4 linked regions of the Homo sapiens genome follow. The protein of the gene in region 4 interacts with the protein of the main gene of each other region in a biochemical or structural test. Each region holds a gene or a part of one and is shown on either strand. Other genes may lie near its edges.

Region 1 (2,877 bases), on a different chromosome or scaffold from region 4:
AAGAGCTGTGAGATGTAACAGTTGGAAACTACTACCCGTATATAGCACATTTTAAGTCTAAAATAGGATATTGGAAGCTTAAGTATAAAGCAATCTAGAAAACATGACTCTCCTGCTTTCATACAGACCATTGTGATTAAATACTTTTCCAGGCTCTCTATTTTCAGTGATCTCTACCTAATGTATCTTTCCCGATTATTGAGATGTATTACTAGACCTAACACACACAGCCAGGGTTTTACAATCTTATAACCTATACGTTATTAGAATCTCCAAAAAAAAAAAAATATTAAGAATAGGCAAGGATTCTGGCCTCTTAAGGCTCTTACTCACTCAGAAGCTAATTTCCATTGTTATGTCAAAATTAAATTTCCTATAGAATTAGTCAATACATATAAAATGAGAACATTATGCTTTTTGTCAAGTTTCCAAAAGTATGTGCTCAAGCTTCACATCATATGAGCATTTATAACAAATTAACCTTCTGGAAACTGTCATTGATGATCTCAGTGACAAATTTACAAAAGCAGAGTTAAATTTAATTCAGCTCTGTTAAGAAAGGGAAATTGGCCAATATGGACATAAATAGTTGTTTCCAGAGCTTTCAATTTGCAGAAAAACACCACCTTAGGTTGACAAGTCATACCTCCAATGCAGCTTTTTGTACAGTGATTTGGCTATAGACTCTCGCCCCTTCAGGGCAGACTGTCCTCAGTTCATCCTTATTGAGAGAGAAAAGTTGTGCACCATTTAATACTCCAAGACTATTGACAGTCCTAAAAAAAAAAAAAGGAAAAAGAAACTGAGCATTAAAAATATTGCCTACAAACAAAGGAGAAAATTATCTGTTCCTGCTAGTAACTTCTCTTTTCTAAGCGTTCCATACCCTGGAACCCTTATTAAATGCCACTACAGTCTTTATAGTTAGGGCAATGACAAGTTTCTTTCATGATGATGACCCTGAGGCTATACAGATTATTAATTACAAAGTATCAAAAATGAGCCAATTCGGTTTAGGGTCATTGTTTAATACCAATTCTTGGGATTTGGTGTTTTATAGAAGGAATAGATAACTTTCTAGTAACCTGGCAATTGACTAACCATTGTATCTCATTTTTCAATCATGCTGGGTAGGTGAGTTTATAATATGTCAAGGTCCCTTGAATATGTATTATTCTAATAGTTCATTGTGCCAAATACATATGAAATGTTTATAGACTTTTAGATAGATAAATAGAACCTTTACTATGGGTTTATTAAAGGAAAAGTTCTATTAAGATTATAATTGATGCTAGGTAACACTATTTTTTATTTGCCAGAGACACTATATCCTGCAGCAGGAGGAAAGCTTATGCTCTATGTCCTATGTGGTCTAGGAAGTTCAGCTAAGACCATGGTCCTACCTAGGTTACATCACAGTAATCTGATGGAGAAAAGAAGCTACTGGGCCTCAAAGCTGCCAATAGTTTGCTTAAAGAACTAATAATGAACAGATACTACCAATTCGAAAATGGGGTGGCATCAGAATAATTATTTATGCTTATTTTAGTTCTTTTTCAGCTATGAACAGCTATAGTGAGTTCTTGAGTATGGCACAAAGTATGCAGTCTGTGCCCTTATGTTTTATAACAGTTATCTGTGACATCTAACTAAGCAAATTGAAAACAATGCATGTTGTACACACAGAATTGCAAAGTATTCACAGAGAGACTCACACAGGGTTGAATCCCTTTGACTGTAACCACGTCTTCACATCCTCTGGTGTGGAGTCGTAAGTGATATTGATAACTGGCACGTTCTGCCGTGGCACATGGAATTTCTTCTGAGCGGCACTCCGACCAATGGTCAGTCTGTGGATGAGTTCATCTTGCACTTCCTCCATCTGAGATTTCCTTCCTAGACACCAACAGGGAGTAGGTTCTTTTTGAAAATCCCTAATATTACATCACCCTCTCTAGAACCCCAATCTCTATAATCCTTGACCCCAGTAGGACCTACAGTCTAGTGTTCCTACCATCTTTCCTCACTTTTATCCTCGCCTGGTATAAATGCCATGATCAATTATTAAAATAACTCCCTGGCTCTTCTCTAGTCTCTTCATTGTACTCCTTTGGCAAAACCCCAATCCTGGTTAAACCTAACTTTCTGCGTATTCTGTGCCTGCACCTGCACAGCTGAATATAACACAACAATGCTGAATGATCTCATGTTAAATTCATGATTATGAACCTTAACTTGGCTGTTAATGCTTCCTGACAATTATACTACATTTCCTTAGACTGGTGGCTCTCAACTGGGGACAGTTTTGGCCCCAGAGGACATTTGGGAATATCTGGAGACACTTTTGGTCGTCACAATTGAGGGAGAAAAAGGGGAAAGGCTGCTGCTGTCACACAGTGGGTAGAAGCCTGGGATGCACACAACATTCTATAATGTCAGCCTCTCCTACAGCAGAGAATAACCCAGCCTCAAAGGCCAAGAAGTCCTGCCTAAGGTCATGTAACTGCCCACTGTCTTAGACAAGTATTGAATATATTCTACTTTCTCTCTACAAACTTCTAACCCTATTCCCCAATCCTCACCTTGAGCTGATCTCATTTCCTAATTTATGAATAAAATAGTTAGAAGAAAACCTCCGTAAGTTCCTCTAGTAGTTCTTCCTAACAGCACTTTCCCCATATGTTCTGCCTGCCTTCCTATTATGTTATATAAGAGCTGTTTCCCTGCTCCCAAGGCTAACTATCCATGTATGCACTAGGCCTCAAGTTCTCTGCCTATTCAAATACTGAGTCATTTCTCCCTTATTTATCCTGTTATTAATTTTCCTTCTTCACTGAATCAGTTCATCAGCCTGCAAACATGCTATTATTTTATGAT
Region 2 (3,500 bases), on a different chromosome or scaffold from region 4:
ACATTAAAAGAATAACACAGATAATACCGAAGAATAGGTGCTAAAATTTACTTATTTACTTAAAAAATCTCCTGCACTGAAGGAAAATAGTATAAATTACATTACCAACCTTCAAAAGTTAGCATGTAAAGAGTATTCTGTCTTCAAACCACAGCCTCTCTAAAATAGTCTGTAAAAAATTCATAGGTGAAAAACAAATCTAGGGACCTCAAATGCACTGATTTATAATATTCTTAAATATTAAAAAAGGAAAGTAAACTAGCGGTGTGGGTAAGATGAAGCAAAATTTCAGGGATTTAGTACCTTTAAAGTGATCATACAATTTCTTTAGAGCTGAGCAGTTTAAGTAGAAATAAATACTAGTACACACTAGAAGAGAAGGTTTAATAATTGATAAAAATGTACAAAAATATTCAAATCAGAAATGCTTTAGAATGTGTACCACGAAGTCAATACTTCTCAGTGAGTAGGGAAGGCAAAATACTTCCTCAATAGCAGGGAAAAAAAAGCAAGAGAAAGACTGAATTTAGAAAAAAAAGACAACTGTTAAAGAAAATGTTTAAGTCAACTTTTTTTTTTTTTTTAGACAAGGATATTGCAACTATCACTTAAAGTCTGGTGGCACATTCTTTAGTAGGTCCTTAAGGCAATATATTTAAATTAATTTACAATTTGATTTGATGTTAAAGTTTTTTTAAACATCACCTCAAAATAGATGCTCAAAATAATGCCCTCACAATAGCCTTTGTAAAATGTATTCAGATGTTTGATAAAAAATAATGGTGGCTTTATATTACAGTAGTGCTCATTAGCACCACTATAATTAAGGGTCTACCAAGTTTCCAGCAAAACCACCTGTTTCTTAGGAGTTTCACCATAAAAGATCACATTGGCTTTAACCAGTTGGGTAGCGCACAAAAAAGCAATTTTTATCAGTTGCTGGTGCTTTTTTTGTACTACTATATTATCAAAAAATTTTTCATTAGATCTTCAAAATCCAGCTTCTATAAAGTAAATCAAATCACCTCATGACTTAGATTTTAGAACAAAGTAGAGACATCTGCAGTTATCAGTAAATTGCCACCTTTAATCCATCCTACAGTGCCCTGTGAAAGGGTCACAGAAAGACAGTTATGACTGTATGAAAATATGATTCTTGATACAGAATCAAAAGTTACTTTCAATTTCCTTTGCTTTTATAAAGTCCACGATAACAATACTTAAATGCACTTTTTTTTTCCTGTGATATAATTAAAACCCAGTGTTATTTCAGTTGAACTTAAAATAGAGTCCCTGGTCTGAATCAGACTTTAAATCATACTGTAAACATATATTTGGTATAATTTATTGATCATCATCCAGTTGCTCCAAAAGGGTTCTTCTGCGCTTTTCCAATTCCCCTTCACTCAGTTCGCTGCCAGAAGTATCCCAATTACCCTGAAAAGACATTGATTACAATTATAGTTGACATCAGTACTCAGAGGTTTACGGGCTGAGCCTTTGAAAAAAGAATCCAATATCTATATAAACTCTCTTCCAAAGAAACACATTTCACAGGGTTTAAAGACTGTGTGAATATGAAGCAATATTTCCATTTAATGGAAGCCAGGTATTCATTTCCTAGATAATACATTCCTTGCTAATTTTTTTGTTGAGACAGAGTCTTGTTCTTGTCACCCAGGCTGGAGTGCAGTGGCACGATCTCGGCTCTCTGCAACCTCTGCCTCCTGGGTTCAAGCAATTCTCCTGCCTCAGCCTCCTGAGTAGCTGGGATTACAGGTGCCTGCCACCAAGCCCGGCTCATTTTTGTATTTTTAGTAGAGATGGGGTTTTGCCATGTTGGCCAGGCTGGTCTCGACTCCTGACCTCGTGATCTGCCCACCTCGGCCTCCCAAAGGGCTAGGATCACAGGTGTGAGCCACTGCACCTGGCCTATTCCTTGCTAATTTTGTAGCTTCCCCCTGGTTCCACAAGTATTATCACAGAAACAGAAGTAGTATGCTTTAAGCATATGGATTCCTGTGCCAAATAAATACACAAGACTAATGAGCAGGACAAGATTTAGGCTGAACAAACAAAAATAATACTGCACCGTAAGACACAACCTTTGAAAAGTGGATAGTTCCCATATCGTCCTCTTTCATTCACTCCAGGGATTTCATTTAACCCACCATAAGCTGCTAGAAAGTACAAAGGAAACATTCACTCTTCACTTACGATGTGACTCAGACTCACCTGTTTCAGCTCTAAAAAAAAACCCACCCTATACCAACGAATCAGAATATCCAGAGATCCCTAATAGGGTTTTACCTACATAGTTTATGCTCTCCAGTGATGATTCATAGGCATTTACCCTTGCTAAACCCACAGCATTTGCATTATTAGGCTCTGTCATTCATATATACATATATTTGAAAAGGACTAATTATGTAATCTGTTATTGAAATACTAACTTTGGCTTATATTCTCCTCTCCTATTTATTTGCCCTTCCTCCACCCCAAATCAGTATTTCTAAAAGTTACTGGAATTGCTACCTTTTGAAACAAAGGATTTAATAACAGTGACAACTGTAGACATCTGTAGAATCCCAGATTTAGTCTCTCACTTAAAAAAAAAATTTGAAAATTAGGTAAAAAATGTCCAGTGGCACTTCTTAGTGACCATATCCTTTCTTAGTGAGTTAATAAGGCTATAGTTATGAAATGCTATATTTAAAAAATATCAAATTTAGGAGAATAAAATCTAGGATCATGCATGACCAAAAACTATGATATTGTGTGAAATGTACTTAACTGAATTTTCACTGTTTTCTTCAATGGTAGCACACCTGGAAAAAAGCCTATTCTTTCAACACCATCATGGTTTAACCACAGAATACATTTTTGCATTTTGAAAATACAGGCATGAAACAATTCTAAATACTTACAGAATCCTTTCCAGTCTTTTTCTTAGGCGATTTGTGTTTTGATTCTGATCTTTGTCTAGTTCTGTCTTTTTCACTTTCCCGATCTTTTTCTTTTTTATCCTTCTCTCGCTCAGCATCGGATTCTGGAGAGTCCTGTATGAATAGAAAATAACAGGTTAGCATTTTGATGAAGATACCATTGTTATATAGGTAATATTTAAGAACATCTATGTGTAACAGGTTATGTGCTCTTAGAGAGATGAAATAAAATGTGAATTGTTAACCTCAAGGATTTAGTAAAATTTACCCAAGATTCATGGGGACAGCTTTCCCTTGGGAAGGATAATATTCTGAAGGATAAAATACCACTCATGAGACTTACTACCACATAATAGATGTGTAGTATCTATTATGTAAATACAGACAGATACTACATTTCTCACCAACTCAATATAATATTGGTTTATATATGTACATAGTATACTGCTGTTAGCTTTAACACATAAGGCAGACAGCTGTATTAATAAAATTATTTTCTTGAAATTGCTGAGTAGGAATTATTTAAAATTTAACGTTAGTGCTTAAATGGTTATT
Region 3 (3,500 bases), on a different chromosome or scaffold from region 4:
TTGAGCAGCAAGAACCCAATACCCCATAAAGACACCAGAATGTCATGTTGGAGGCAGCCTGGCAAAGTTAGGCAAAAGACATTTAACTCTTTGATTAGTCCTCAATTTATCAGATGAGGACAAGATAAGTCATTCAGCCCGATGTTGCATACCACCTACAGCTACAACTATGGTCCAGGCTACTGTCCTAAATTAATTTCTACCAAAGGCCAACATATGAAGTATATTCTACTTATGAAACTCGTGTTTCTTAACAAGAAACTTGTTTTCACTAGAAAAATAAAATAATAAAGATCATAATATAAAGGGTTATACCTTAAGATGCCTGGAAAGCTTACCTGTCTAGAACAACTAATTTCTCAATTAATCCAAAAGATGCCTTGTCTTGAATACTGGCATAGAGCATACTGGCTCAGAAATTAAGGAGAAGTAGTACTTCAGGATCTGTCAGGTGATCATGAACTTAAAATGAAAATAAATACTGTTAACTGCTCCCTCAAAGTTCTATATGTAAGAACATTTTGAAGTTTTCAGAAAGAAGCTAATAATACAAGCTTTTATAATTGTTCAAATAGAAATATCATTTATTATGTAAATATATATATATTAACATAGATAGTAAAAGTTGTCTAGTAATTCACCCATTCTTTCATTTAGAGGATGTTAATTATCTTAGAAGAATATGACTCCTCTTCTAAAACTTGCTTTAATAACAAAACACAAGGGGCTAAAGAAAGTCTTCAAATAAGTAAAATTACAATAATGCTACATTCCTCTATCTCTACAGCTTTCTGTTCAGGACAGGAAGTTCAATTCATATATGTAATTTGTTCCTGAGGCAGTAGAAAGGATTATGATAAAAACAATACACAGACTGTGAACTTGGGTTTGCGTCAACTTTTCACTCCTAACTTGAGATTGAGCTACAGCATGTATTAATAGCTTTCATGATTTTGAACACAGATATGTGCTGCCAATAAATCAATCAGGACTAGGGTGCAAAATGGACTCAGCCATTTTAAGGTATATGGAGTAAGTCCTTCAGCTTAATATTACCAGGTAGCTATGAGGAATATTGACACACATCAAATGAGACCATTAAATGTATAACATAGCTCCTTCTCTATTCCTGTTATGACTCAACTGCTTATATCTGCAAGTCAGCATTTGTCAATTTATTCACTGAAAAATATTTCCTGAGTGCCTATCAAAATAAACAAGGCACTGTGTGTTAGGGCTGAATAAGATGAGCATCTGCCTTCGAGGAACTTATGGCCTGATAAATAAAATTCCCAAATAACTAAAAACAAGACAGAAAACAGTATTATAGGCTGGGCACAGTGGCTTATGCCTGTAATCCCAGCACTTTGGGAGGCTGAGGAGGACGGATTACTTGAGGTCAGGAGTTCAAAACCAGCCTGGCCAACATGGCAAAACCCTGCCTCTACTAAAAATACAAAAATTAGCCTGGGGTGGCCTGTAATCCCAGCTACTTGGGAGGCTGAGACACGAGAATCGCTTGAACTCGGAGGGCAGAGGTTGCAGTGAGCTGAGATAGGGCCACTGCCCTCCAGCCTGGGCAACAGAGTGAAACTCTGTCTCAAAAACAAAAACAAACAAAAAAACCCAAAATATTACTCTGGAAACAGAGAGGAAAAAGAAATTAATTTCTGAAGGGGATACTAGAAAGGGTACCTCTGGAGTCAGGCTTTGCAAGGTAAGTAAAATACTAGCATTTCTCATAGTTTTAAGATGTCAGTTTTGAATCAGTTAACTTGTAATTCCTTTAACATTCCACAAATTAAGTTGATTCTCAGTTCCTGTATGACATAACCCACTAAAAAATGTGTATTTCCAGGAAGAGGAGTGTAGTCTTTTTCTCTTCAAGAGACACTAAAAATACATACCAGTTCAGTCTAAAAAACTATGATTCCAAGTTTTTATGTCACCATGTGTATATAAATCGACGCATTACTATATTAAATGGGTATTTCCTTTAAATAGAAAAATACAAAAGAGTGGGGAAATTTTAAAATGCAGTACCCTGTAGGAACATACCCTTTATTATTACCATTAAATTCCAACCGTCACTCTTTCCAATAAAGTCTGATTTTTGTTTTAGAATCCTTCTCAGCTGCTAACATGTTTTACTTATGTCACTATAGGAAATATAAAGCATGCAGTATAAACTAGATACTGAAAAATTGTGTATTTATGACTGCCTTTCTCCTTTTCCTCTATGAAATAATTTGTCTACATTTTCCTGTTTGAACATATCAACTTTCAGCAAGAATGGAATGTTAATTGATGTTACGCACAAGCTCAAATTTAATAAGCAAAAAAAAAAAAAAAAAATCAAACACAAACCAACTGGGTTTCCTGTTTTTATTTATGGTTATTAGTGCCCATTTGGGGGGATTAAAATAAAAGCGTCCATCTCAGTTACAGCTTATCCTTCCTTCAATTAACGTACCCAAGGAGACAAGTTCCTTCCATCTACTCCCCTGATGACTCTCTGGATCACAAAGCCTATTCAAGCTTCTCCCCAGGGCCCCAAAACAACATGCGCAACAACTTCCTAGGGAAACTCAAAGCCTACCTCACCCTTCCCACTGGGGAAATACACAGACTCAGCCCTTTCTGGTGTGATTACATAAGAATACAAGGGCTTGCTTGACCGTGCTCAAAGCTGAGGCCTATCTTTTAAACATCAACTCGTGCCATTTCTCCTCTAAAGCAATGGTGTATGCTGGGCAAAGAGGAAATGAGTAGGATTTATCTTCTAACAATGGCAACATTTTCCAAGGAATCCTCTGCATCAAAAGTTCTGATGCCCTAGGAAAAGTCTATAATGTTTGGAAAGTAACTGGTCTTACGTGTCTAGGTGGTAGCACCCCTATTTTGACTGGGGGCAGGGGGTGGGGAACACTTTTATAAATTGGATTTTTTCCTAAGGCAAGTTATCTGTCTCAGAGAATTTCTAACTCCTCTCTTGAATTTCTACTTATCAGCTGTAGTATTACTGAAATTTAGGGAAACAATTTTTTGCTGTGCAGAATGACCAAAGATGTTGCCAATCATTACTTAACAACAGGGCCATGCTGTCCCTGATGTGAGAACCACTTTGAGGCTAAAGATGGACAATACGGATTATTTTTTTTTATTTCTTTGAATATACAAAGATATTTTCTTTTTTAAAATTCTTTTTCTTAAGACTTAATTTGCTATATATTATTTATTTAATTTACTGTACGTAAGGCATGAATTTACTGTATGCAAAACAGGTCTTTCAAAGAGAAGGGTATTAATACCTATTTCCAGGCTGCTCTTTTTGTATTTGGGGTGCAGAATTTCACAAAAATCCATCTGAGAAATAATGAACTATATGGAGAAATAGAAGCTAACCAATGTCAATAGCTATTATGGTTTTGCAGCTGAATGGCAAAAAGAAACAGGGTATCATAACTGTTATTTTTTGCCAAAACAGGGCCGTTGGGTTC
Region 4 (3,431 bases):
ATGTTTGTATTATGAACTTCTCCCCTGCAGGAATTATGTAATTCCTGTATCAATTTGTATGAAAACATTTTCATATGTCTTTTGAACTTTTAAAGAAATTTATTGATCAGAAATTTAAGTTAAGCATTAATTGGGTTCCAGCTTTGAATTCTTTAAATTTTAGGAGCATTTTTACCTGATATTATACTAGTTCATTGAACAGAGCTCTAGCCTGACATTTTCCCATTTCCCTGTTTACACCTTTGACTGTGTAAAGCACACACATATATACTGACCACGACCATCTAGAGTTTGAGGTATGAGTCATTTTTATTGTTTTGTTTACTGTAAGTTCCTTTTTGTTTGTTTTTTTTAATTACATCTTCAACACTTTATGTTTAAATCTTAATTGTTGATGTATTCTTAGAAAATCGAATCTTTAGGATCTAGGCTTTCCCTCATCCCGTGCTTATGTTTTACTAGCAATAATGCAAAATTTTAGCTTGCTTTCTACATTAAAAAACTAATTATGAATATAAACCTTTTTAAAAATACTCAATTAGATTTTCTACTGGTTGGGGATTCTTTTTCCATTTTTTCAACTTGTAAAATGTAAATAACAGAGTAGAAAATCTGCACACAGAAGCAGACCTAATACTACCAACTTTACTTTTCTCTTCATCAAAACAAACAATAATCAACAAAGAAACAAAAATCTGTCCACAGGAGACTGAATTTTTAGGGAACCAAAGCTGTTTCAAGCCAAAATCAGGGGCATGAATGAGCAGAGTGAAGAGTGATCAAACCATTAACGTAATGTTACTCATATCATTACTGCAGTCCAAATGACAAAAGTGACATAGATTTATTTTAGATTGTTAACATTTGTCCCGATCTGAACCTTGGAATAAGGAAACTACTCCTATAATCCTTATAAAAAGAGACATTGTCTCCTAACACCCTGCATTCATTAATTTGTAGTACTTCCAGATACCCTTATTTTTAGCTCATTTTGTTATTTTTAAATGATTCTTGAGTAGCATAAACTTTAACACACCAAGCTTTTATTTCTAATCATTGCATGTTTTATTATAGTGCATGCTGTACTTAAGTTAGAGCTTTCTTAAATTCTGTTAACTTATAAGTTTCCATCTAGACTTATTTTTGATTCAAATCAATCATATGAATCTTTTTAGTTGCTGATAGTCCAACTCCACCGCCACCACCTCCACCAGATGACATTCCCATGTTTGATGACTCTCCACCTCCCCCACCACCACCACCAGTGGATTATGAAGATGAGGAGGCTGCAGTAGTTCAGTATAATGATCCATATGCAGATGGGGATCCTGCTTGGGCCCCCAAGAATTATATTGAGAAAGGTAAGGTACAGTCATTGAGTTGATGTGAAGGAAAATAACCTAATTGTAGAAATTTAGAACTATAAAGAACATCTAATCCAATGTTTCTCAGCCTTTTAAACTGCCTTACCAACCAAGATGATTTACTTAAACCTTACTTCCTAAGTTTTGTATTATTCCCAGTGTACAGGGGGATTCTTTCTTTGTATTTTAAATAAAAGTTGCAGTGTTAGATTTGCTTTCAAACTACATATGCGTTCAGCTGAAGATTAACTTGCTGGACGGCATTTTATAGATGAAACAGCTAAGGCACAAAAATGGAGTTATATGTAATTAGTAAAGATTTTAAAAGTTCTGTCAAGCTCTATTGATTACCTTTCATATCTAAATATGGACGGTCCCTGATTTATGATGGTTCACTTTAGGATCTTTTCAACTTTATGATGGTACAAAAATGATATGCATTCAGTATGCTTCTCAACTTATGATGGAGCTTTGTCTGGATAAACCTGTTATAAGTAAAAAAAATACAAGTTGAAAATGTACTTTCAATTTACAATATTTTCCACTAAACAGTGGGTTTATTGGGACATAACCCCATTGTATGTAAGTGGAGGAGCATCGGTCTTTAAAAATATATTAGTACTATCATGAGAAAAGCCTCAATTAAGGTTTCAATTAGGTGATTTTATAAAACACAAGAGAAATTATCAGGATTGTATTTCATGAAATTATGAACTACTCTAAAGTCTAATTTACCTATAGTACCCGATATTCACTATAATTATCTATTAAGAAATATAGGTGGGGAAGAAACAAATCCTGTTTCTAGTTTTTATTTTTTCATCCAGTTCTGTGCTATTTTAAAATCTGTATTTCTTTTTGCAGAAGTGGGAATCAATTAAAAATAAAATCTGTATTTCTATAGAGTTCTGAAAAATGCTTGTGATTTAGTTGAACACTTTTGGTTGCCTTTGAAATATATTTCCTTCTATTGACTTTACTGGGTTAACGGACTTTAAGCTAGTAGATGTAGCTCTTGAGACCAGCAGCATTCTTTCCTGCCCAAGTTTTGGATATGTGGCAAAAGTAAATTTGTTTTCCTTTTATATTTTTTTATTTTTTGAGATGGAGTCTTGCTCTGTCTCCCAGGCTGGAGTGCAGTGGTGCAATCTCGGCTCACTGCAACTTCCGCCTCCCAGGTTCCAGCAATTCTCCTGCCTCAGCCTCTTAAGTAGCTGGGATTACAGGTGCCCGCCACCACGCCCAGCTAACTTTTGTATTTTTAGTAGAGATGGGGTTTTGCCATGTTGGCCAGGCTGGTCTTGAACTCCTGACCTCAAGTGATCCGCCCATCTCAGCCTCCCTGTGCTGGGATTACCGGCATGAGCCGAGCGTGGCCTTATATTTTTAAACAGTAAGTAATTTACATATTGTTAAGAAAGTCTTGAATATTCTACTTGAGATTCCCATATACCTTCAAATAGAGAGCTGTTGTTACTTACGAGGATGATAAACTTGAGTGACCTTGAATTGTGTTTTTACCCATATTTTCTTACTTGGTGAAGCCAATTAACTGTGAAAATGGGACCATATTTATATAAGTTGACAAATTTGGAATGATATATTGGGTAATATATTTGATAGTAGAGGAGGATTAAAAAGTATATTCCCAAGAACTAGGGGTGAGCACACTTTGTTTGGTATAAAGCCAGATAGTAAATATTTTAAACTTTGCTGGCTATACAGTCTCTGTCACAACTACTCAGTCCTGCTATTGTAGCGTAAAAGCAGACATAGACAATACATGAGTAAGTAGATGTGGCCATATTGCAATAAACCTTTATTTACAAAAATTGCGTGGTTTGGATTTGTCCATGGGCCATTTTATACATTTTGGATTACTTTCTCTTTCCATAGCAGTTTGCAAAGGAAGTGAATATAGGCTAAGCATCCCTATCTGAAAGTCCCAAATTCAAAATGCTCCAAAATCCAAAATGAGTTCCAACATGATGCCGCAAGTGGAAAATTCCACACCTGACCTCACGTGATGGGTCACAATCAAAATGCAGGCACATGACACAGTTTATT

The links.
Region 1: the proteins of ABI1 (region 4) and EPS8 form a complex in vitro, tested with the Homo sapiens proteins (one study listed by BioGRID).
Region 2: the proteins of ABI1 (region 4) and PRPF40A form a complex in vitro, tested with the Homo sapiens proteins (one study listed by BioGRID).
Region 3: of the proteins of ABI1 (region 4) and CDK6, one has a biochemical effect on the other in vitro, tested with the Homo sapiens proteins (one large-scale study listed by IntAct).

The regions. Positions count from the first base shown.
Region 1 is NC_000012.12:15,622,512-15,625,388, forward strand, and holds part of EPS8 (epidermal growth factor receptor kinase substrate 8), read right to left. Parts: intron 1,897-2,877; coding exon 1,716-1,896; intron 777-1,715; coding exon 647-776; intron 1-646. UniProt on the Homo sapiens protein: Signaling adapter that controls various cellular protrusions by regulating actin cytoskeleton dynamics and architecture. Depending on its association with other signal transducers, can regulate different processes.
Region 2 is NC_000002.12:152,654,962-152,658,461, forward strand, and holds part of PRPF40A (pre-mRNA-processing factor 40 homolog A), read right to left. Parts: intron 3,060-3,500; coding exon 2,928-3,059; intron 2,181-2,927; coding exon of another isoform or gene 2,163-2,180; exon of another isoform or gene 1,438-2,162; coding exon 1,345-1,437; 3' UTR 1-1,344.
Region 3 is NC_000007.14:92,721,574-92,725,073, forward strand, and holds part of CDK6 (cyclin-dependent kinase 6), read right to left. Parts: intron 1-3,500. UniProt on the Homo sapiens protein: Serine/threonine-protein kinase involved in the control of the cell cycle and differentiation; promotes G1/S transition. Phosphorylates pRB/RB1 and NPM1.
Region 4 is NC_000010.11:26,749,528-26,752,958, reverse strand, and holds part of ABI1 (abl interactor 1), read left to right. Parts: intron 1-1,175; coding exon 1,176-1,361; intron 1,362-3,431. UniProt on the Homo sapiens protein: May act in negative regulation of cell growth and transformation by interacting with nonreceptor tyrosine kinases ABL1 and/or ABL2. May play a role in regulation of EGF-induced Erk pathway activation. Involved in cytoskeletal reorganization and EGFR signaling.